Regions from separate parts of the Homo sapiens genome. Here regions 1 and 3 are each linked to region 2. The links come from fine-mapping of genetic effects on gene expression. A gene starts in region 2. Each other region holds a variant in brackets. All regions are shown on one strand. Distances are from middle to middle.

Region 1 (7,405 bases), 43 kb after region 2:
AGGGTCACTGATTATGACCAGGAAAGCAAAGACTTCTAGATTTTCAAAGTATGGAAATATGCTAAATATCACAGAATACCTTATTTTTTTTCAGGGTAGAGAAATCCAAAGCGCAAGCAATTGCTTCTAGTTACAAATTTGGAATTTATCCAGCCAAACACATTTTTAAAATCAGGTGACTCCTAAGAAATTAGTATATGCCACAATGAGCTTGATGTCATAAAAGGGACCAAAACGAGTATAGGTTATTCTCAAGATTATAATTTTGCTAAGACAAGATTTTTTTTTTTTTTTTCAGATGGAGTCTCACTCTGTCGCCCAGGCTGCAGTGCAGTGGCGTGATCTCGGCTCACTGCAAGCTCCACCTCCTGGGTTCACACCATTCTCCTGCCTCAGCCTTCCAAGCAGCTGGGACTACAGGCACCCGCCACCACGCCAGGCTAATTTTTTGTATTTTTAGTAGAGACGGGGTTTCACCGTGTTTGCCAGGATGGTCTCGATCTGGACCTTGTGATCCGCCCACCTCGGCCTCCCAAAGTGCTGGGATTACAGGCATGAGCCACCGCGCCTGGCCGACAACATGATTTTTAATAGTGAAACTATTAAAACAAGATAGAAAATTATTAACTACTAAATTTCAACAGTCTATAAAGTACCACAGAGATGAGGAAAACGATTGGCTTTAATCACTGAACAAATATATTCTTTGATTAGATGAAGCTTGTTCTTATGTTCCTCTGCATCTTCTCTCTTTCTCCCTTCTCTCTCTTGGGTTTTTTTTCTCTTTTGAACCGCAGTTCACTTACTATGTTTTCCAAGTGCTTTACCATCTGGGTTTGTCAATACCTCCCTCAAAGGATGGTGTCCAGACTTGAAAACTGAAAAAGATAGGAGCTGACCCTAAAGAATTTAAGGATTGTTCCCTCCATTATTCTTGAAAACCGCTGTTAAAACAGAATCCATAACCTTGGTTCAATTTCTAGAAGTATATTTGCAGCTCTGGCAAGATACTCTTGTTGCCAGTATCAATGCCCATCCAAATTTTTGTATCTGTCTAGATGCAGTCCCATGCTGCCCTTTGTGTGTTATTCCTGAGGACTACAGAATTCCTACAGCATTTTGTACCATGCATGGCTCTTACTTTTTTTAAAAAAAATTAAAAATCCTATTGAGTGCTTACTGAACACTGTTCTAAGAACTGGATTATGGTGGTAAACAAAAGGGACAAAATACATTGCCCTTGTGGAGCTTACATTATAGCTGGGAGAGAAAGGCAGTCAATCAATGGCAGGTGGTGTTAAGTGCTATGAAGACAAATAAGGCAGAGAGGGAGTGCTGAGAAGATTGCAATTTTAAATAGGGTCTGTTTTTATTTTAGCATTTAATTAAATATTTTACATGTCTTCCTATTTTTACTACTAGATTTTTAGCAACTAGAGATAGGGAAGTTTCTAATACCACTTTATCTGCCAGCATGCCCTACATGTACTCCACAGAACAGGAATCAAAACTACTTTCTGTGTTCCATTTAGGGGAATGTTTAGAGACAGGCCAATTCTAGTACTTACATGAAAGTTCTCTGAAAACTGTGAAATATTAAGCAGTTGTAAGGCAGTAGTAGAAGTGGTAATAGCAGCTGCAGCAGTAACATAAGCATAAAACATGTTTCCTACTTCAGGGATCACATGGAATATAAAATATATACACAAATAACTTTACCATGACACAGACTATATTAAATGCTATAAGTACAAAGAGGAGGCCCAAATAGCCAAGAATTTAAAAAAAAAAAAAAAAAAGCAACTTCAGTAATAATCAGAAAAATACAACTTAAAATGAGATTACTATAACACAGATTATCACTGCCAGAAAGGCTTAAAATGGGACTTAGAGGATAGGAAGGCCTTTAACAGGCAGACATGGTGAGGCTGGGCATTCTAAACATACAGGACCAGGTAAGCAGACTCAGAAGCAGGAACAAACATAGTGAGCATGCAGGTGTGTTGAGTCCAGGTTGGCTGGAATATAATCTATCTGAACGCAAGAGAGAAGCCCGAACTAAGAAGACTGAAGAGGCCAGATCACAGATCTCGTAAGCCAAACTAAGAAGTTTGGTCTTTACTCAGGACACAATGGAGAACGACTAAAAATCAAAGTTGTGTTTTCAGATGATTAACCTGGTTTTAATATTTAGAATATGCCAGAACTTAGGAAAAGCTGAAGGAGGAAACATCAGTTATGATAGTAAGACAACTAAAAGTTGACAAGGTCTAAGAAAGGAAAATGGCAGCCAGAACTGAAGAGGGGACCAGATGCAGAGGAAGTTTTGTCTTATGGACTGCCTGGATGGGAGAGCTACGTAAGAGAGAGAGACTAGAGAATGCCAAATTTTGATGACGGGGTGATTATTCACAACCCAGAAGCTAGAAGGAGAAATATATTCACTTTGAGGGTTAGCAAGCTTGCTTTTGGATCAAAAAGACTCCGAAAAAGATAAAAGCCACCCTAGAATGGAAAATTTAGGGAAAGACCATGGTCCCAGATCTTTCTTTGATGAAATCTTCACCCTGTTTGCTTTAAGTACTAGGGGTAGAAAACTAACCAGAAAGCATGCATCTATAAGGTTAGAGACTGTGTCTACCTTTTTCACTCCTCTATACACAGCACTAAGCAGAATGCCTGGCACACAGAAAGTTCAAAAACACTTGCAAGGTAGCCCTGTCACACAATGGATAGCCTTCTGAACTTCCAGAAAATACTTGCAGAATTAAGTGAATGAATGAATGAGCATATCAGGAAGCCAGCTTAAGAGAGGCTCTACTCTATGGTATAGCCCCTGAGCTGGAGGGCCCAATTTTGTCTTAAGCTCCAAACATTACATGAAACCAGTTTACACCACAACTTGCTATGTACCCATTTACTCTAACATACCACCAATTAGATTATGTACCCCATAATAAGTAGACAAGTTTTTTTAAAAATAATTTTAGCATTCTGATTATGCCCAGGGAACTGTTTCTTAATGTCCAACATTTTGTCTTGCTCAAATCACTTTATCTTTGAGCTGGGCAAAGGCACTGTTGTTATAGATTGTATATAATGAAGAAAATGTTTACTTGCCTATTAGAAACAAGACTGGGAAAGAATCTAAACATACTTCTTTTCTAACAAAAATTACTTTTTGAAATGCTGAAATGCTTTTAGGAAAAAAAAAGAAAGTGCACATGTAACTGTGGGCTATAGGCCTATAAAACACAAGTAATTTACTGAGATTTCCACGAGATTTCCATAAATAGCAATATAGTAAGTGGCAGTGTGATCTACATTTTCAAGTGAACAGGTTGGGTCTCACCTACCGGGCTTCCTCACCTGTTTGAGGGCCAAATGGGGTTTGTGGCGGCCCATTCTGTTGTGATTGCTGTAAAGGACTGCACATAACACATCTGTTTCTGCATCTAAGGTTTGGCTCTTCAGCGACAGTATGACGAGATGGCATTCTTTAATTACAGCTGCAATGCAAAGGTCTGAAGCAGAGACATCTAATAAGATTTAGTATGTATTTCTACAGTAAGTATATTATATTAAAAACACACTAAAAAAAGCATCTTTCCTTATTTGTTTTAAAGGAATCAAAAACTAATGTAATCAGTCTCAACTGTAAGAACGTAAGGATTCTAAGTATAAGAGAAGTTGGAAAATGGTAACAGATGATATAAAGTCCAGGAAATCATTAAGAGAACATCTGTAAAACAAGAAGCTGTATCTTTGCATTGCATTTTATCATGGTTTAATAATCTTTCATATGAATACTTTGCTGTCAGTCATTTGGTGTACACTTACGCCTCATGTGTACACTTAACCCCCACCTTGAAGGTAGGGCACATGTCACAACATGTGTAATAACTCTCTAACTCCCCATGTCGCTATGCCCGAAAGCAAGACAGAATGAATAAATTCACAGTCTTCAAAATCAAGGCTTCTGTGTTTGGATATCACTTTATGAGAGACACAAACATATTCAGAAAAGAAAAACCACCACAGTAACTGGAAATCGTATTATTTGATGAACACCGGGTGCTCATCAGCAGATGCTTCCTAGTCTGAAAATCTGTAGAAGTCCCTAAGATGTAGTTCATGTGTTATTTATGGCTCTAAAGGCAGCACTAGCATTCTAAATGGAAGTAAAGGCTGGTTGCTACCTAACAAGAATTTTCTTACTGTCCCAACAACTACCTGAAGACAGAATGGGCTGCCTCGGGGATGGGTAGTGAGTTGGTGAATTTCCCAGGCCTAATAGGAGTTGTTAAAGAATTTTTGAATAGAGAAAGAGGGAAGATTAATCTGTAAAGTGTGTAGGAAGGATAGATGGGATAATCTGTAAAGTGTGTAGGATGGATATATGGGAAAGGGGATGTGATGATCTAAGTCAAGCTTGTCCAACCCGCCTTATTTTGTTGTTCTGTTCTGTTTTGTTTTAGGCTTTTTGCAGCTTAAAGCCATGGTTTTTAGTTTGTCTCTAGTGAAAAGAGGGATGAGGAAAGG[G/A]CTTTACCAGCCCAACCGGAAACAAAGAACCCATGACTGTATTCTCTCCCTTGGGCCCCGGAGCTACGTATTTAATATTCATAACAGCTTCCATTTGAGTGTTCATTTACCATGCCAGGCAGTGTTCCAAATGCTTTCTCTACATTATCAACTCTTTCATCCCCCCAAACAGCCCTATGAGGAAGGTGCTTTTATCTCCATTTGAAAGTGAGATCAGTGAGGCACAGAAAGGTTCAATGACTCCTTCAAGCTCCAGCAAAGGGTAGAGCTAGTATTCAAACCCAAACAACCTGGCTCCTGCGCCAGGCTCCTACCTACTATATGCCCTTCACCCTAACAAATACCACCCATTTAGGTGGCAAAACACCGTCGTTTACAGCGCACTGTCTCCTAAATTACATCATTAGATATTCCCAACGCCCCTGTGAGGAGTAGGAGGACTAACTCCATTTCACAGATAAGCAGATAGAGGTCCGAAAAGATTGCAGTTTGAGTCCCAGTGCTTAGGTGACGTCCACCGCTCCTCGGGTACAGGAAAAAGAAGGAAAGGGGAAATGGACGGAAGGGTAAACAAGACTCCGAAGACCCGGGTGAGCAAGGGTTCCCAGGCAGCACTGTTCCCCGGCACCAGCTGAGTCCACCTCTCTCCGCCCCCTCAGCGCACGGCTGAGCCTTGGTCTTTCATCTCTCCAGCCAAGCCCTGGGTTAGCACAGCTGGTTCAATGAAGGAATGCGAAGCCAGAGGCCCTACAAGCTACACCAGCAAAGTGCTGGGACCGCTCGACCCCTACGTGCCCCGCGCCCCTTCCCAGCGTCCCCCGGGCCGGGAAGTCCCGGTACCACCCCCGCCCACATGCGCCGGCTGGGCCTGGCGGCCTCCCCCGGAAACGTTCCCCCATCCTCGCCCGGCGCCTCACTCACCAAGGGCCGCGCCGGGGTTCTGCACTGTCACTGCGCTGCGGTTCCCCGCCTTAGGGATTCTCACACGGTTCCACGGCTCCAGGCCCGGCGGCACCGCAGCCATCATGCGAGGCGGGGGGACTTACGAAAGGCGGAGCTACGCGAGAGCACGTCCAGCGACCGGAGGTGGGGCGATGGGACCCAGTCCGGGCCGGAAGGGAGCAGGGGGTGGGGCTCGGGCGGGGCCAGGAGCCCGGCGGGAGGCTGCCTTCATCGAGTAAACGCGTGGGACTGGGAAGGACCCAGTCATCTGTATATTGGTTACCAACACGTGGCCGCGTAGAATCATGGGGGAAAAAAGGCCCCATCCCAATACTAACCAACAGAATCTCTGAGAATGCGATGAGGAATCTGCGTTTTGTTTAAACTTAGCGCAGGGGATTCGGAAGCACAACCAAGTTTGGAACTGTTAAATACTTCTAGGCATTTTACAAATATGGAAAATGAGGCCCAGAATTGAGTTGGTGCTTTTACCCCCAACTCTGCCTCAGACATTAGGGGAAAAAGGAAGAAATGAAATGAAGAGGTTTGTGCAAGGTGTGGAATTTGTAGCGAAGAAGCAGTGATTTGCTTTGAGTGGTAAAGGAAGGCTCCTTTATGTCTTGAACCACAGCAAAACCGAGATCACATCAAAGAAACTTGGAAGACACCTGTCAGTCATTCCCACTTTTGTCAGTCTCCAAGACAAGATCATATTCCAAGCTCTAGTGATCCTTACCTCATTAATATCTTTCTAATAATTCATTTATCCTCAGCCATGCTAATGCCCCCTTAAGTTCTTAACACTCCCACAGTAACGTATTAGAAAAACAGTGAGTTTTGGAAACAGACTGCCAAGGTTCTAGTTCTAGCTTTGCTGTTTACTAGCTCGGTGATCTCAGGAAATTTACTTACCTCCTCCTCCAGACCTTAGTATCCCTGTGGGTAAAATGAAGATGATAATAATAGTATCAATCTCACAGACTTGTAAAATGCCAAGGCACTCCTGGCATACAAACAATGAACATTTACCATAGTTAATATTGTTGATGTTATTACTACTATTTCATGCAAGCAGTCTTACTTTATTGAAACACTTTCCATGCTCTTTCTGTGCGCCTTTACACATCTACCTACTCTACCTGGGTCATCCTCGGAAACACAATCTCCTTTCCTCAGCTCTGGGGTCGTCACTTGGGGTAATTCTTCCTAAACACCCCGTCCTCACTCCATAACTTGATACAGAGGCCCCTTTAATGTGTTACCACAGTGCCCTATGTTGGCCTATGTATTAGTTTTCTATTGCTGCTGTAACCAATTACGACAAACCTAATGGCTTGAAATAAGTAGAAGTTATTTTACATTTCTGGAGGTCAGAAGTCCAAAATTAATTTCAATGGACTGAAGTTGGCAGGGCTGGTTCCTTCCGGAATCTCTAGGGAAGAATTCATTTCCTTTCCTTTTCCAGCTTCTAGAGGCTGCCTTCATTCCTTGGCTCATTTCACTATCCTCCACCTTCATTGTCAGCATGACATTTTTCAGTCTCCTCCTCTTCCTCTGTCTCTCTCACCCTCCTGCCTGCCTCCCTCTTAAAAACACCCTTGTGATTACATTGAGCCCATCAAGATAATCAGGATAGTCACTCCATCTCAGAATCTTTAACTTAATCACATCTGTTTTAGAACTCCAAATTCAGGCTCATGTACCCGATGGGCAGCTGATGCCAAATATTGAGATACTGGTGCTTGGAGACAGAGAAATATTTATTCGATTTGACCAAAGTTAGAGGGCAAGAGAGCAAGATCTCTCAGATCCACAGTAACAAAAAAGAAGCAGGGAGTTTTTATGGAGCTAGAGAGTAATGGAGAGGGAGTTTCAAGGAATCCAAGGGAAAAGTCTGTGTTTCTTCCATTTCAGGTAACAC
Region 2 (7,405 bases):
TCTCAGATCTTCCTATCTTTTATAGACTGGAAAGAGATAAGTATGGTTCTTAGAGCCCAAATCCAAATATCTCTAGTGCTTATTCTATTGTTTTTGTCCATATGTTTATTCTGTTCGTGGGATGGATCATCTACTTCATGAATGATTCACAAACACTAGAGTTTTCTATACAGTCATCCCTCAGTGTCCTTGGGGGATTAGTTCTAGACCCCCAGAGATGGCAAAATTCAAGGATGCTCAAATCCCTAATATAAAATGGTGTAGTATTTCATATAACCTATGTACAATCTCTCACATACTTTCAATCATCTCTAGATTGCTATAAAACCTAATACAATGTAAATAATACATAAGTAGCTATTATATTGAATTATTTAGGAAATGACAAGAACAAAATCTGTACATGTTCAGTACTAATGAAATCATCTATTTTTTCCCTTTATATTTTCAACTGAAGTTGGTTGAATCCAGGGATGCAATACAGAGGGCTGACTGTATTTCCAAGTATCTGTAGGAATTTTCCTCCTACTTGTCCTCCCTTCCTATACTGAATTTAATATCTTCCTCCACAACGAAACTCCCTTCTCAGTCACATATATACCTCAGCGGCATCACAGAACTTTTTTCAAATGAGAACCCCAGGGCAGAAGCTCTTGACTCATGTTTCAAAATAAATATTTTACCTAGTGCCACCGCCACTCAATGGGACACTGTTACCACATTATTCTCCAAAAAATCCTACTTAATTATAAATTTTCCTGTTCACCAAAGAACAGGTGGTTCCTCATTGTCTACTGACTAATACCCAGGTTCTTTAATTTAGCTATTAAGGACCCCCAAAATCCAGCCTTATTTCCTACTATTATTTAACACACAACCTCTGTTCCTGCAAGCTACAGCTCTTTCTCTCTCTGAAGCACCTTGCATTTGCACATGCTACACATCCCATCCTTCCAATTCCTTTCTCTGCATTTCCCCATTTATCCAAACCTGTCATTCAAAGCCTAGCTCAAGACCCATCTCCATAAAATCCTCCACAACTCCAACCCACTGTAATTTCTCCCTCCTTTAGATTTGTACTAGTTTCATATACAATTTCAAGATTTACTGATTTTAAATGTTCACCAATTGTTTCATCTTACCTTTGTCTTTCTAATTTAGATTACTAATAACTTTTAGGCACTATTCTACACACACACACAGACATTAATAAGGACTTTTAATTAATTTATTAATTGCTTAAGCATGAACATTTAGAGAAAAACACACCTATAAATTATTATAACATGTAAATTCACAAATATGCAAACTAGAAAAGGAAGATAGGACTAAAGTTATTAATAAGGACAAAACCCTTCTTTTGCACAATTGTTTTGAATCTTTTTCCACTGTTTGCAAATCTGCCAAAGCTACCTTAGAGCCCTGTCTTGATTTTTATCTCCTCTTCTTGTTACTGCCTGTCCTCTAGTGGAAGACAACAATAAATGAATAAAAATTAGCCCAAAGAAGGAAAGAAGTGAAGGGTTCCTTTTTAGTAACTCATAATCACAAAATCAGTAACTTTTATAAAAGATGGAATAATTTTAATTGGAACACCAAAATATAATTTGAACACACACACAAAAATCTAGAAGACAATAGGGCTAAAAAAAAGGAGGAAGAAGTGGCACAGGGTACGGGGAGTGTCCGGGAAGGGGACCAGGTACAAGGCTGGGAATATAGCTCTGATGTACACAATTTAGGTTGTTTTTATTTTTCCCCTTAGGTTTTTTCTGGATAAATCTTGTTTACTAACTGCCAAGCTGCTTGAAGTTATAAGCAAATAAGTAGACAAAAAGAAAATAGGGAAACCAAATGAATACTATGTTTTACATTTAAGTCATTAGCTCCCTTGTTCCTTTGTGAATTTACCTTGTACAAAGCGAGTTCTTTCTGTTTGGCAGTATTAATAACATAGCAGTTTTAGCAATAAAGACATAAAGTCATATTTCCCCAAGTGGTATGCTTCTCATTATTCTAAATCATGTCATGGTTAACCTATCACACCAAATCACTACATGTAAAGTAATATGCTTTTTTAAATCCTGATTTTAAACATTTAATAACTTTACAATAACATAAGCATAGACTTCATAGATCTGCTATATGTAGTCTTTCCTAGTTGTGTTCAGAAATAGTTTTAAAATTTAAACCTTTCAACCTTTAAAATTGAAAATTACAAATTATGTTTTAATCATTTTTTTTCCTTTTCCCAGGAGTAACAGTGCAATTTGACATAAACAGCTCCTTGCCTATCTGGCTGCCCCAGCCAAGCTGGGTCCTACACAAGTTGCTATAAGAGCTTTCTACAACAAGATCTGAACTACTGAAAGATTCAGATCACTTGACTTTTTAGGTGAGTAACAGTCTATTAAGGCTAAAACTAAGTATTGGCTTGACTTTTTTCACTGATGCTCTTCAGTGAAAAGCACAATGGTTAAATAATGAGGAAAATTGCCCACTCAAATGTTTAGTGGTGCTTACTGATGTATATCATTACTGATTGTGATTCTGGCACATACTAGTCATATCTAACCTTGGCCAAATCATTTCACCTCTCTACGCCTCCATTTCTACCTTTGTAAAATGGAGAGGTGTCTTCCATGTCTACTTCACTGGGTTGCTGTGCAGATCAAAGGGAAAAAAGCATGTGAAAATTCTCAATAGAAAGGTGCAGTCAAAGAGTGTAGTTATTTTGCATGTGTTCACTAGTAAGATTAACATGTGGAAAGAAGATTTTTTGTGGAAGATAAGCAGCATTTTAAAGTCATTCAGAAATGAGGAAAAATACCTTTTCTTCTTTCAATTATCAAATTATAACATTTAAAACCAACTACACTCTTCCCTTGCAGCTGCTCTGTCTACCAAAAGTGAAACCTGAAAACTCCCTCCCACACCAACTCCTACCAACCTTCTACAGTGAAACCAGGACACCCCCACAGTGGCCCAAGTTCTCTATAACTTCTATAGGAACCTAGATGTTGAAGAGTCTGTTCTCTAACTCGTAGTGTCTCTTACAGCCCACACATCTTGAAGATAAATACAGACATACATCACAGACGCACCACTGTAACTGTAGGCATATTATATTTTTGAAGTGCCTAATCATCGAAAGTGACAGAAAGCAATAAACTGTCCTAATCTATGCCACTGGCAATGTGGACCTAAATGAGTTAGCGTTCTTATCTTAAAAAAAAAAATTAAGAGAGAAGAGGCTGGGTGCAGTGGCTCATGCCTGTAATCCCAATGCTTTGGGAGTCTGAGGTGGGAGAATTGCTTGAAGACAGGAGCTCAAGACCAGCATGGACAATATAGCAAGACTCTATCTCTACCAAAAATTTTAAAAATTAGCCAAGCATAGTGGCGCATATCTGTAGTCCTAGACACTCAGGAGGCTGAGTGGGAGGACTGCTTGAGACCTGGAGTTACAGGCTGCAGTGAGCTACGATTGCACCACTGCACTCCAGCCTGGGCAACAGAGCAAGACCCTGTCTCAAAAAAGGGGGTTGGGGAAGAGAATAAGATAAAGAGAACCTAACTGACTTTGATTGCTGCTAGTATGTATTTGATTTATCCTGCCTTGTTCAAAAAACAGGAGGAAATAAGGAAATGGACAGTAAGACAAATTATAGAGATCTGTATATTGTAGTAGGATACAAAGTACAACAAGCAAGACACCGGAAAAAAGGATAATAAAGTAAACTAGATATGGGAGTAACCCATATTTAGCAACCCCCTATATTTATTATTGCAATTGATTTGTATTGCCCCAGAAGAAAGACAAAAAATAAACTCAGGAAGAGCTGAGACCAGGTTTCTCACTGTTCTCCCAAAGAGAATTCAAACTTACCGGCCACTAAGAAGATAGTCAAAATCAACAGTAGCCCTAGGTTAGCAGTTCTCCAAGGGCAGAGCATTTCTGTTTTCTCTTTTTCTGCCCTTCACTCAGTACTTTTCCTCCACACAGGTACAGAAGGAACTGTGCGCATGGTGAGACCCTCTCTGGTCAACTTCTCAGTACAGGATCCTCTTACCCCATCAACAGTGGGGCACTCCCTTCCTTCTAGCCCCTTCCTTCACGTCTATGTGGTTTAGCCTGGTTAGTAACTTGGACGAACAGAAGCTTTTCTCTGGAACTTGACACAGCAATAGATTTCCTGTATGAAGCCCTGAAGCAAAGACGGAGGAAGCAGATTGATTGAATTATCTCTCAGCTCATTGGTTCTCCTCTCACTTCTGCTGTACACAGACAAACTTTACAGTAAGGCATTGAACGTGTCCAAGATAAACAGATTTGTCTAAACTTGCACCAAAAAGTAAAACAGAATATTGATCTACTTTGGCCCATCCTTGTAAATTTCCCAATTATGATGACTTTTAGAGGCTTTCTCCAGGTTGAAGAGCTTTACGGCCTTAGTATTTGAGTCTGGAATACAATATGTTTTCTTGAAAATTATTGTGTGAAATTCCTGTCTATAATGGGAGTCAACACACAACCCTGTAAACATCATATGTGTATTAGTTTCCTATTGCTACTGTAAGAAATTACCACAAACTCAGTGGCTTAACACAACACAACATTTATTATCTTACAGTTCTGGTGATCAGAAGTCTGAAATGGATCTTAGGGGACTAAAATCAAGGTGTTGGAAGGGCTGCACTCCATCTGGAGGCTCGGGCAGAATTTGCTCCCTGCCTTTTCCAGCGATTTGAGAATGCCTGCATTTCTTGGCTTGCAGCTACATCATTCGGACCTCTGGTCCACTGTCACATCTTCTCTGACTGTGACCCTTATGCCTCCCTTTTATAAAGACCTTGTGATTATTTTTGGTCCACCCAAATAATCCAACATGATCTAATTTCAAGATCTTAATTTAATCACATCTGCAAAGTCCTTTTTGCCACACAAGGTAACATTCACAGGTTTCGGTAATTCGGACATAGGTATCTACCTTGTTGGGGGTGAGGGCATTCTGTTTATCAGAACTCAGTACTTATTGCCATTCAGTTTCACCTTTGGAAAATTAGACTGATCATTTTAACCAAATTACAAATAATCACCCATCTCTTAGTTGCCACACATCTGGAATTCAGACTCCCCCTAACCAAAAAAAAAAAACAACAACAACAACAAAAAAACCTCTTCCTTACTGTTGCTAGTTACTATGTTACTATGCTTTTAAGTTATGTCTGAGAGAGGGAAAAATCTTCTATGTGCTGAGAATTTTCTGCCCCAAGGCAAAACTGTACAGGAAGGGGAAGAAAACATTGCAAACAGGAAAAAGATTAAACAGCATGCATTTTTTTTCTCAGTTAGCAGTTTCATCTTCCTTCTTGCCAAACATTATAAATATTTCCCCCCTTCCCCTTCTCAAGCTTTTTTTTCCAGTTAATTAATTTGATGAAGACAGTGAAACCAGATCCTTGAGGGCATGGAACACTTAAGGGTATGAGCTGTGACAATGGGAAGACCAAAACAAAAATGTCTTCTCTTCTGTCTAATGTTTCACCAGGTGTCGGAAAATTAGTGAGAATACATCATTTAAAATACAGATAATATTCTGGTTTTCCACTACATAGAAGTGAAAGTTGGCCGGGAGTAGTGGCTCATGTCTGTAATCTTAGGACACTGGGAGGCCGAGGCGGGCAGATTGCCTGAGCTCAGGAGTTCGAGACCAGCCTGGGCAACATGACAAAACTCCAAACTCCATCTCTACTTAAAAAAAAAAAAAAAAATTAGCCAGGTGTGATGGCACTCATCTGTAGTCCCAGCTACTTGGGAGGCTGAGGCATGAGAATCGCTTGAACCCAGGAGGCAGAGGTTGCAGTGAGCAGAGAGAAGTTAAAGTTAAAATTCACACTCGCTTAGGATACAGATAGACATAGGGTTAAGTCTCTGTTGTGCAATTACTAGTCCAGTGATACTGGGAAAGTTTCTTACTCAAGTCTGTATCTGTTTATATTATATTGACATTAGCTTTTTCTCATGTCATCAAAAATTCTTGGAGATCATTTATTTTAATATCTGCTCAATGACATAGCCAAAACTAAACCACAGAAGGGCTAAATGGCCTGTGGCCTCAAAACAACTTATTGGCACGGCTGGGAATAAAATGTGTTATATTTCGTAGCCCTGTGTTCTTTTCACTCAACTCCTCTACTTTGAAATTTCAGGCAACAACTTTCATAGACACACTCCAATGCACTCACCTGAGGTCAGACCACAATCTGCAATCAGCAGTTTAAGAATCAAGTGATGGGTATCAAAAACCATAAAATTCACTAAATAGATTTGGCAGGATGACAGTTTCTCTCCCTGGTCCCTCATCCTCTCCACCCCCAAATCACATGCCTGTAACCTCTCAACTCCCACCTTCTACCTTTTATGGACCATGAATGTTTAAAACAATAAAGGGACTAAAAGTTTGTTAACATAATCATCCACTAAAGACATGCCATGAAAGTCAGTATAATAAGAGAAAGATGTGTCTGGTAAATACACCTCTCTAAAAAATCTAAAGGCCCCAAATTCTCCCTGGTTGCGGCCCTTGGGCACAGGACCCAGGAAGCAAAGCAAAAGAGTGAAAAAGGATCAAGAAACAGGTGTCATTCAAACCAGAAACCCAAACCTTTTACTCTACCAGTTTTCCAATTCTCCTTCAATAATACCAGTTAAGAATCATAGCATAAGAGAAACAAACAGGACAATGTAATGCCAGTTAATGTTGTAGCCAAAACAAAAAGACAGAGAAACTTTAGTAAATTAGAACTACTTTAGGCCATAATGCCCCCAAACCAGCATGGCTGGTTTACTCAATTTATCAATTGCAATAAACTGAAAATTGATGTAATAACTATAAATGTTGTTGAAGTAAACTTCTTCCAATCAGGTGTATATCTTTCTCTCCAATGTCAGATTCAGACTTAGCCACACTGAAACCATTTAAGATGAAGTGTTGCAGCCTTCCTCTTGGGATTCCTCCCCATTATGTAGAAGATTTGCATGGCTCTTGAATACTTACTGCAAAGATTCTATGGACTTTTATTCCTGACTTCTCGTTCCCGGGACCCTTTGCTCCCCAGTACCATTGCCGACTCATTCACCTCTTATATTTGAGTCTTGACTGCCGAGAACTTCAGCACCTGCCTGCCCTTCCTACCATAGCTGAATTTTCTGGATGTGCATTCTTGCAAAATGGGCCAATAACTACTTGCCTTGTCACTGTTACTTTTGGTGAACTCTCTGGCTTAGATATCTGGCCTGACTTACCCTTCTATACACTTGCATGTGTGCACACACAAACATAACACACACACACACGCTCACACAAATATGCTAGCGAAACACTTAGTCCTAATTCCCTCA
Region 3 (7,405 bases), 48 kb before region 2:
GGTGCCTTGACAAAGATATGTGCATGTATATGTAAGGGGACACATAAATTGACACATATACCATAGGCATATACACATGTCATATGTACATTAAAATATTCTGAAAGGATACACAAGAAACTGTTCACACTTGCTCCTTCTTCAGTTATTTCTTGAGGAAATTTGGTTTTCATTATTTACTGTCCTGCACAATTTGAATATTTGGTCATGGGCATGTATTTTCTTTGTAATAACATCAGTTCTTCAGAGAACTAGCTGGTAGCAGCTAAGAATCAAAAATTCCAATTATACAAGGGTATGAATGAGAATCCATTAAAATGTCTTCTAAGAACCTTGGAAAACCTAATTTCAATATAAGTCTTCATTCTAGAACTGTAAGAAAATCAGACAGTAATTATAATGTATCTCGTTTGTTGTTGTTTCTTGGTACTAGAGTCCAACAACTTATAAAGTATGGAGGTCTGTGTCAACTTCACTTTGTAATGCCTCAGATGCCTTCACCTTGTTTGTAGTATCATAGAGAGGATTGTTCTTCTCTGTGTAGCTGGCATAGGGCTGCATTTCATCCTAAGAAAGAACTCAAAGTTAAAATCAATTCAAAAAATCATCATAGAGACTATCTGTATTTTTGTAACAGTTGCCCATAGCTTTAGTATTTCTAACAGGTGCTCAAGAGTGCTTATAATTGTGTTTCTGGGCCTATATAAACATAAGAGCAGGATTTGTTCTAACATTTTATCAAAAAGTATTTGTTAACTACATAAGTCTCTGTGTGGAGATAATGGCTCTGTGCAAGTAGGAATGGAGATGAATGAAGTGATATGAGTACTCCAAAGGAGAGCTTTGGAGACTTAGTAAGCTACTTATAATAAGAGATGAAGGAGCAGGATATGTTTTAAGTTTGTGTAAGAGAAAAATAATGATAGTATTGAAAAGGAAAAGTCAGGAATTAGAGATGCTTTCAAATTGGTGACAAGAAACACCAATTCATTTCCTCAAAAGATTACAGTCTAAAGGAGCCAAACATCATATGTGTTAGGATATAGTTCATGAAGTGAAAATGTGGTTCAGAGTGATGATGTATAAATAGTATTTGATAGATAATTAACAAAGTAATCACACATATAAGCACTGCAAGTCAGAACTGTTTTAGTTTTTCAACTGAAACACTAATATTGATACAAACTACAAATTATGTTGCTAGATTTTCAGACTATTGGCTTAAGTTTGCAATTAGTCTTTTTTATCTTATCTTACCTCCTCAACAACTGGAGTAGATTCTGTTTTATTCAATTTATATTTTCTATAAAAATAAAATAAATTGAAGTGAATGGAGGAAACATCATTGTTTAGATCGAAAATGGGAAAATAAGACAGTATACTATTGACAATTGTGTTTAATTTTGATAGAAGCCATAATAAATCAGAAAGAAACTACTAGAAATAAGTGAAGAATACTGCTCGTGGTTAATATCCCCAACTAAGAATATTCCGGATTTTGAAAAAGTGAAATTATGCAATAGAAGCTTGATGCAATTGAATGCATGTAACATCTCCTCTTTGGTGCATGAAGGAATTGTAATTATTTACCCAAATGTGAAAATTAACATGCACTTTCTCTCCCAAGATCCTACCCTAAATGGCCTAATTTTCCATGCTTCTATGCCAAAGCAACCTAGCAAAGTCTCTCTCATCATTCAAAGTAGTCCAAGTCTATCTAACACCTTCAAGATTTGATTATGGGAGATTTGATGTTAACATCCTAATATACCCAATACGGTCAGTTCCATATTTCTGACTCTTTTCTAGCCTAATAAAGCTGAAGAAGAAAAAAACATTCATTAGTCAATACCTGCAGCCATTGACTTTCAACAACCAAATGAATCCCACGATGGTCAAAATAATAATAGTAAGGATGATATATGGAATATATAATTTTGCTGATTTTTTGGCACCTGGAACTATAGACACAAAAATATATGGTTCAAATGTGGTACAATCCAAATAATGTACTATCTTATTATTCAATGTTAAAAAGAAATGAGCTATCAAACCATAAAAAGACATAGAGGAATTTCAAATGTATGTTACTAAGTGAAACATGCCAATCTGGAAATGTTACATATTGTATGATTCCAATTGTAAGACATTACGGAAAAGATAAAACTAGGGGAATAGTCAATAAATTATTGATTATCTGGTGGTGAGGAAGGAGGGAGGAATAGAAAGAGCAAGGAGGATTGTGTAGGACAATAAAACTGTTCCATATAATACTGTACTGGTGGATACATGTCATTACACATTTGTCCAAACCCATGGAATGTACAACACCAAGAATGAACTCTAATGTAAAGTATGGACTTTGGGTGGTAATGTTGTATCAATGGAGGTTCAACAGTTCTAATAAATGTAACACTCTGGTGCAGGTGTAGGTGGGAGAGGTTGGACATGGGCGAAGGCAGGGCTTATATGGGAAATTTCTGTACTTTCCACTCAATTTTGCGGTGAACCTAAAACTGCTCTAAAAATTAATGTCTACTAAAAATAAAGTTATCTATATTTATATCCATATCTATCTATATAGATCATTCAATAATGTCTCACAATACATGAAATTCATATCTGTAGTTTCATTTTCAACACTTCTGCCCCATTAATAGTTTGAGAATTATTAAAATAAAACTGCTTTTTCAATACAGACTCCAGAGTTTTCAGCAAGACATCACCTTATATCAGGGTTTTGTTGCTTTAAAGATTCATTGGTGGTGAATTCCTACCACTCTGTTATAGCAGAGTGTTTCTCCCCTCCAACTAAATGGGCAATTGTAAGGAAGATACTTGGAAAAGTAACCCTAATTCTGAAGTCATCTTTCTCCCAGGGCATTGAAACTGAAATGAATACACAGCAGGAACTTTATTTATTAGCTGCTGGCAGCAATACAAAACTCTATCTGACAAGCGTGCAAATCAACCAAGGAATTGCCAGCCTGAGAGGCAACGATTTGCAAACTATGCTCCTGGTGTTGCATGAATATAGCTCAGGGGCAGCAGAGGAGATGAAGTGGAGACTGAGCAGGCTGGCCTCTGGTCCTTCCACCTTTCTTCCACAGTTGATGTTTTTAAATACTGAATTTCTCCATATGTTATATGAAAATTAAATGTTTGGTTACATTGTTTAAAACAACATTTTTTAAAACCCTTGCTTTCAAACTACTAAGCTCTCTCTCATTAAATTTGTACTAGCAGAAGCTGAAGATCCACCGTGCAAGGAAGACATCAAGGAGATCCCTGCTGTACATAGGAATTTGAATGAGAATTTCCCTTCAATTCTGAGACACTATAAATCTGACATCATATAGTAATATGAAAGGTGATATTTCACACATAACCAAGGCACAACTTCTCTTTTCAGTAAATATTGCTAAACTCAAAAAAACCTACACATATGACTTAAATGATAGATATAAATAAAGGTGGTTTCAACACATGAGATTTTCTCTTCTCCCTCATTAAAACTTACTAAAATGTTGGTAAAAATAATTTTTTTTTTAGTGTAGATCTGCAAAGACAAAGAGAAGAGGATGAAGACAAGAACAGATGAAAGATTTCGAACTGTTTTTAAGTGAGAAATGAATAGAAAACTCGCTAATGATTTACAACATAGAATAAATACAAACCTTAGTATACACAAAACTCCAGGAAAACTCTAGAGTAGGAAGCATCAAATATAGAAGAAGAAGTATGTGGAGGGGTGAAGTGTGGGGCTAAAAGTTGAGAGCTTCTTTGAAATTTTGTCTTGAGAACAGGCAGGTTCCCTTGTCTCCTGCTCCATTTTATGTAGCACACCTTTCCCAACTAGCAGAAAAAGGGGAGATTGGCAGATTGGTCCAAAGAAGATGAACTGGAGAGACTCCAAAGTCAAGGATCCAGACATCAGGGAGGGTGAGAATGAAATACCAGACTGAAGAGAGGTATAAAAGGAAGTCTGATTCTCAACAGTGGCACACTCACATGCACACTCACACACATACACATATTGCTCCCTCCTTTCCCAAACACTGGTAGTCAGGCTTATCTCTCCAAGGCCAGAAACTGCTGAGTTAATTTCTGCAGAGCCTGAACAGCCCCAGAGAAAAGGCCTTCAGATACATAACAAATCTCTAGTTATTAAAAAATCACAGCTTCTTTTCACTGAACTGAAGCTAACTAGTTGACAAATCCAACCATTAACTAGTTGAGCTTCCAAGTAGCTCATATAGTACTCACTTCAAAATGAATCCATACCCAAGGATTACCAAAGAGTGAAGAAAAGTCTCATATATGAAAGAAAGAGTTAAAAACAAACAAATGTATAGAAGACAGAAGAAACTCAGATTAAATAGACACAGGCTAAGTAGAGGACTGAGGCAATGAGAGTGTCCAGGACAATAGCTGTACAGCAGATCTAGAGGCCAATCAGGAGAGATTAGACCAAACACATACCAAAACTCAAGAAGGAATGACTTTGAGAAAAAATAGAACTAACAGATTACCTAATAAATCTGACCATGTAGAAAATATTACTAAGGGGTTCTCTAGTTTTGTCAATAGGCTTAGTGATAGTTCACGATAGGTACATA[C/T]ATTCTTAAGGAAACAAAAAAGGTAAAGCACTTATGAAGTCCAAGGAAAAAAAGTCATTTGAAAGAGAAAGCATGAGTGTATTTCTTGATTCAGCACTTAACAGTACTTAAATATTCAAATTGATGGGAACATAGGCTATTTAATGAAAAATTGCATTACCTCAACTAAAGTTTGAAGGAAAGGAAGAAGGTAATGTGAAATCCTCATCTACCATAAGAAGTTGTGATTACATAATGTCTAAATTTGATACAGTAAGAAATAGCAGTATGAGCATGTTGTATAAAAATGGCACTAATTACCAGAAGAAACACTGGAAAATTTGAAAGTACCTACCTGTGGGGAGTTTAATGGAGATGGCAATTGGGTTGGAAAGACAGGGGTAGAGCTAATGTTTTTCAGGAAGCCTTACAGAACAATTGCACTTTAAATATGTTTGTTGATATTTAATAGTTTTTAAATAACAAGAAATGAGAGTAGGATGAGAGCAGAGAGTAAATAAACTAAACAGTGATTAAATGAATCATAGATGTTATTATAAGACATTTAAGAAATTCAATGATGAAAAGTCCAGAAAACAAAATTACAACAAACTAAAAATTCATAAAAGCAACTTTGAGTAAATGTATCCTTCTAATAGAACCATAATTACATGCTTCAAAGTATACTTTATCTTTCAATAAGCCATAAGTATTATTTTTAAAAGTATACTACTCATGCTAATTAACTACTAGCATAGAAGTGAACATTAATAGTAGAATTAAACTGCATTCTAAAAAAGGGCTTTTTACAACAAATGTCTGTACTATTCTCCTCAACTCATCTCTTTATTTTGGTCAGGGAAGAGATAAAAATGAAGAGTGGGGAGAGCATCCTCGAACAAAATATATTTGCACATCTTTTTTTTTCTTAACTCTTTTAAAAGAATGGAAAAAAATAAAAAATAAAACTAAAAGAATTACTGACCAGGAAGTAGCTCTATGTACAGACTCTTGTTGCCAGTCAAATGGGAGACGTGGCAGGTCACGGTAGACACATTGTGGACCTCCCAGTGGCATGTACTCTTAACAGTCACTGTGCCATTGCTCCAGTATTCTTGCTTAGTGGCACAATCGCCCTCTGGGATCCAGGAGATATGCGCAGCTGGCTTCCCTGCAACTGCCTTGCATACTGCAGTTCTATTCCTGTTTTGAAACAGGGTCACTTCAGGTGTAACTGCAGAGAGGAAAGAGGGAAAAAAATGCTTCGGTTTTCACATAAAGCATATGGAATTCAGAGAGACATTTGTTTCCGTCACAAATCTGGTGATGTGAAATACCTCAATATATGATGCTCCTTACCTAACACTTGGAGGTGATATCCACGATGGAAATTCCCATCAGGTGTTACCATTATGCATCTGTAATACCCGTCATGAGTGATGGCCACGGTACGAATCTGAAGGTCCGAATTCTGATCAGGTCTGGAGACCCAGGTTATTCTCTCATCAGTACAGTTGGTTTCCTTGGTCTCATTTGTTTCTTTCTTGTAGGCTTTTGTGCAGGAAGGCTGGCCTCTCAGGATTATTTCCCATGTTATTATGATCAAATTTCTTAATGCGATAGGAGGGCAACAAAGCACAGCATTTGTAGCCATCTTTACAGGCCATGAAGTGTTAACTGGACATGAAAAGAGAATGATAAAAGAAAAGCTTGATAAAGAACTTCATGTGTTACATTTATCCACAACATATGAAGTTACACTAGAACATAACTTTGTTGGTGATCTTATTCCAAAAATATTAGACCTTCATAAAAAATTAAAATTCTCAAAATATAAATAATATATTGAACCCAATCTAGAGATTAACCAATTTTCTCCTGTATTATGTATTATTAGAAATATGATATATAATAAAGTATTTTTTATATTAATGGAGAAGTTTTAATATCTAGAAACAAAGAGAATTGTAAATTAAACAACAAAGGCAATGTTCTACATCTAATCTTTAGGTGGTGGAGACTATTGCCTTTATCATACAATGTATGTGCCACAGGAAAGAAAATGGAACAATTAGTGATGTGGCTGTCTCCTCCTCAGCTTTGGTGAGCACAAAAAAGTCTATCTCTAAGGTTTTTGTTTCAGACAAACATAAATGTGGTATGTATTAATATATAGTGCTTTCTTTTAAAGTAACTAATATGGCATTTGGGTTGAACTAGCTAGAAATTTTTTTAAGTTCTTTTTTTTAAAAAGAATCACAAAGTCAGTGAAACCCACAGATCTTTAAAAAAAAAAAAACTATTATTCCACCAGTTGAGCCATCCCATAAAAATGAAAAATGATAATGCCCTGTGATAAGAGATGCTTAGAAATATTTATTTCTTGTGAAAATATAGTGTGATATATAATTTTTAAAAAACGATTTATTTCCCTTTAGACATTTTTTATTAAAAATATTTTATTGCAAATTTATGACATTATCAAATGTAGCCTTTGGATGAGTTTTCATTCCTTCCTATTTAGTCACACATACACTTTCAGATAGTTCAGCTGTGAACTTAGCTCACAGATTTTATTTCTGTATATTCAATCCAATTATCAACACTAAAGGCGTAAGTTGATCCCTGTTGTCCATCATTTAAAGGAAAAATTAAGCCCTGCATCCTACAAGCATCTTCCAACGTAGAACCTCATGCATCCCATAAATCGACACAATGTGTCAGTGACTTGGTAAGGGTTTACTGAGAGGTGATTAGTCCACCAAAGTATTTGTCACTACTCACCTCTAACAAAGGTAAGTGTCAGT

Evidence for each region. PIP is the estimated chance that this variant, and not a neighbour inherited with it, causes the effect. A credible set is the group of variants that fine-mapping cannot tell apart.
Region 1: its variant is the best candidate, but not a certain one, in a credible set for the expression of CD200R1 in whole blood (TOPMed, PIP 0.72).
Region 3: its variant is the best candidate, but not a certain one, in a credible set for the expression of CD200R1 in monocytes (Kim-Hellmuth 2017, PIP 0.56).

What each region holds. Positions count from the first base shown.
Region 1 is chr3:113,014,079-113,021,483 of GRCh38, forward strand. It overlaps RMP64 (ribonuclease MRP subunit p64), which reads right to left and starts at 5,593. Exons shown (of 9, transcript NM_015412.4): 1 at 5,464-5,593; 2 at 3,370-3,524. The coding sequence starts at 5,569. NEPRO-AS1 (NEPRO antisense RNA 1) reads left to right here and starts at 5,440. Exons shown (of 3, transcript NR_186663.1): 1 at 5,440-5,628. RefSeq lists an enhancer at 5,042-5,111 and a silencer at 5,272-5,381. The variant G/A (reference allele first, on the strand shown) is at 4,543.
Region 2 is chr3:112,970,902-112,978,306 of GRCh38, forward strand. CD200R1 (CD200 receptor 1) reads right to left here and starts at 4,202. Exons shown (of 8, transcript NM_138806.4): 1 at 3,890-4,202. The coding sequence starts at 3,956.
Region 3 is chr3:112,923,233-112,930,637 of GRCh38, forward strand. CD200R1 (CD200 receptor 1) reads right to left here. Exons shown (of 8, transcript NM_138806.4): 4 at 5,958-6,275; 5 at 5,584-5,832; 6 at 1,853-1,961; 7 at 1,258-1,303; 8 at 1-567. The coding sequence ends at 445. Among named protein-coding and RNA genes, the nearest start is that of CD200R1, 48 kb to the right of the region's middle. The variant C/T (reference allele first, on the strand shown) is at 4,620.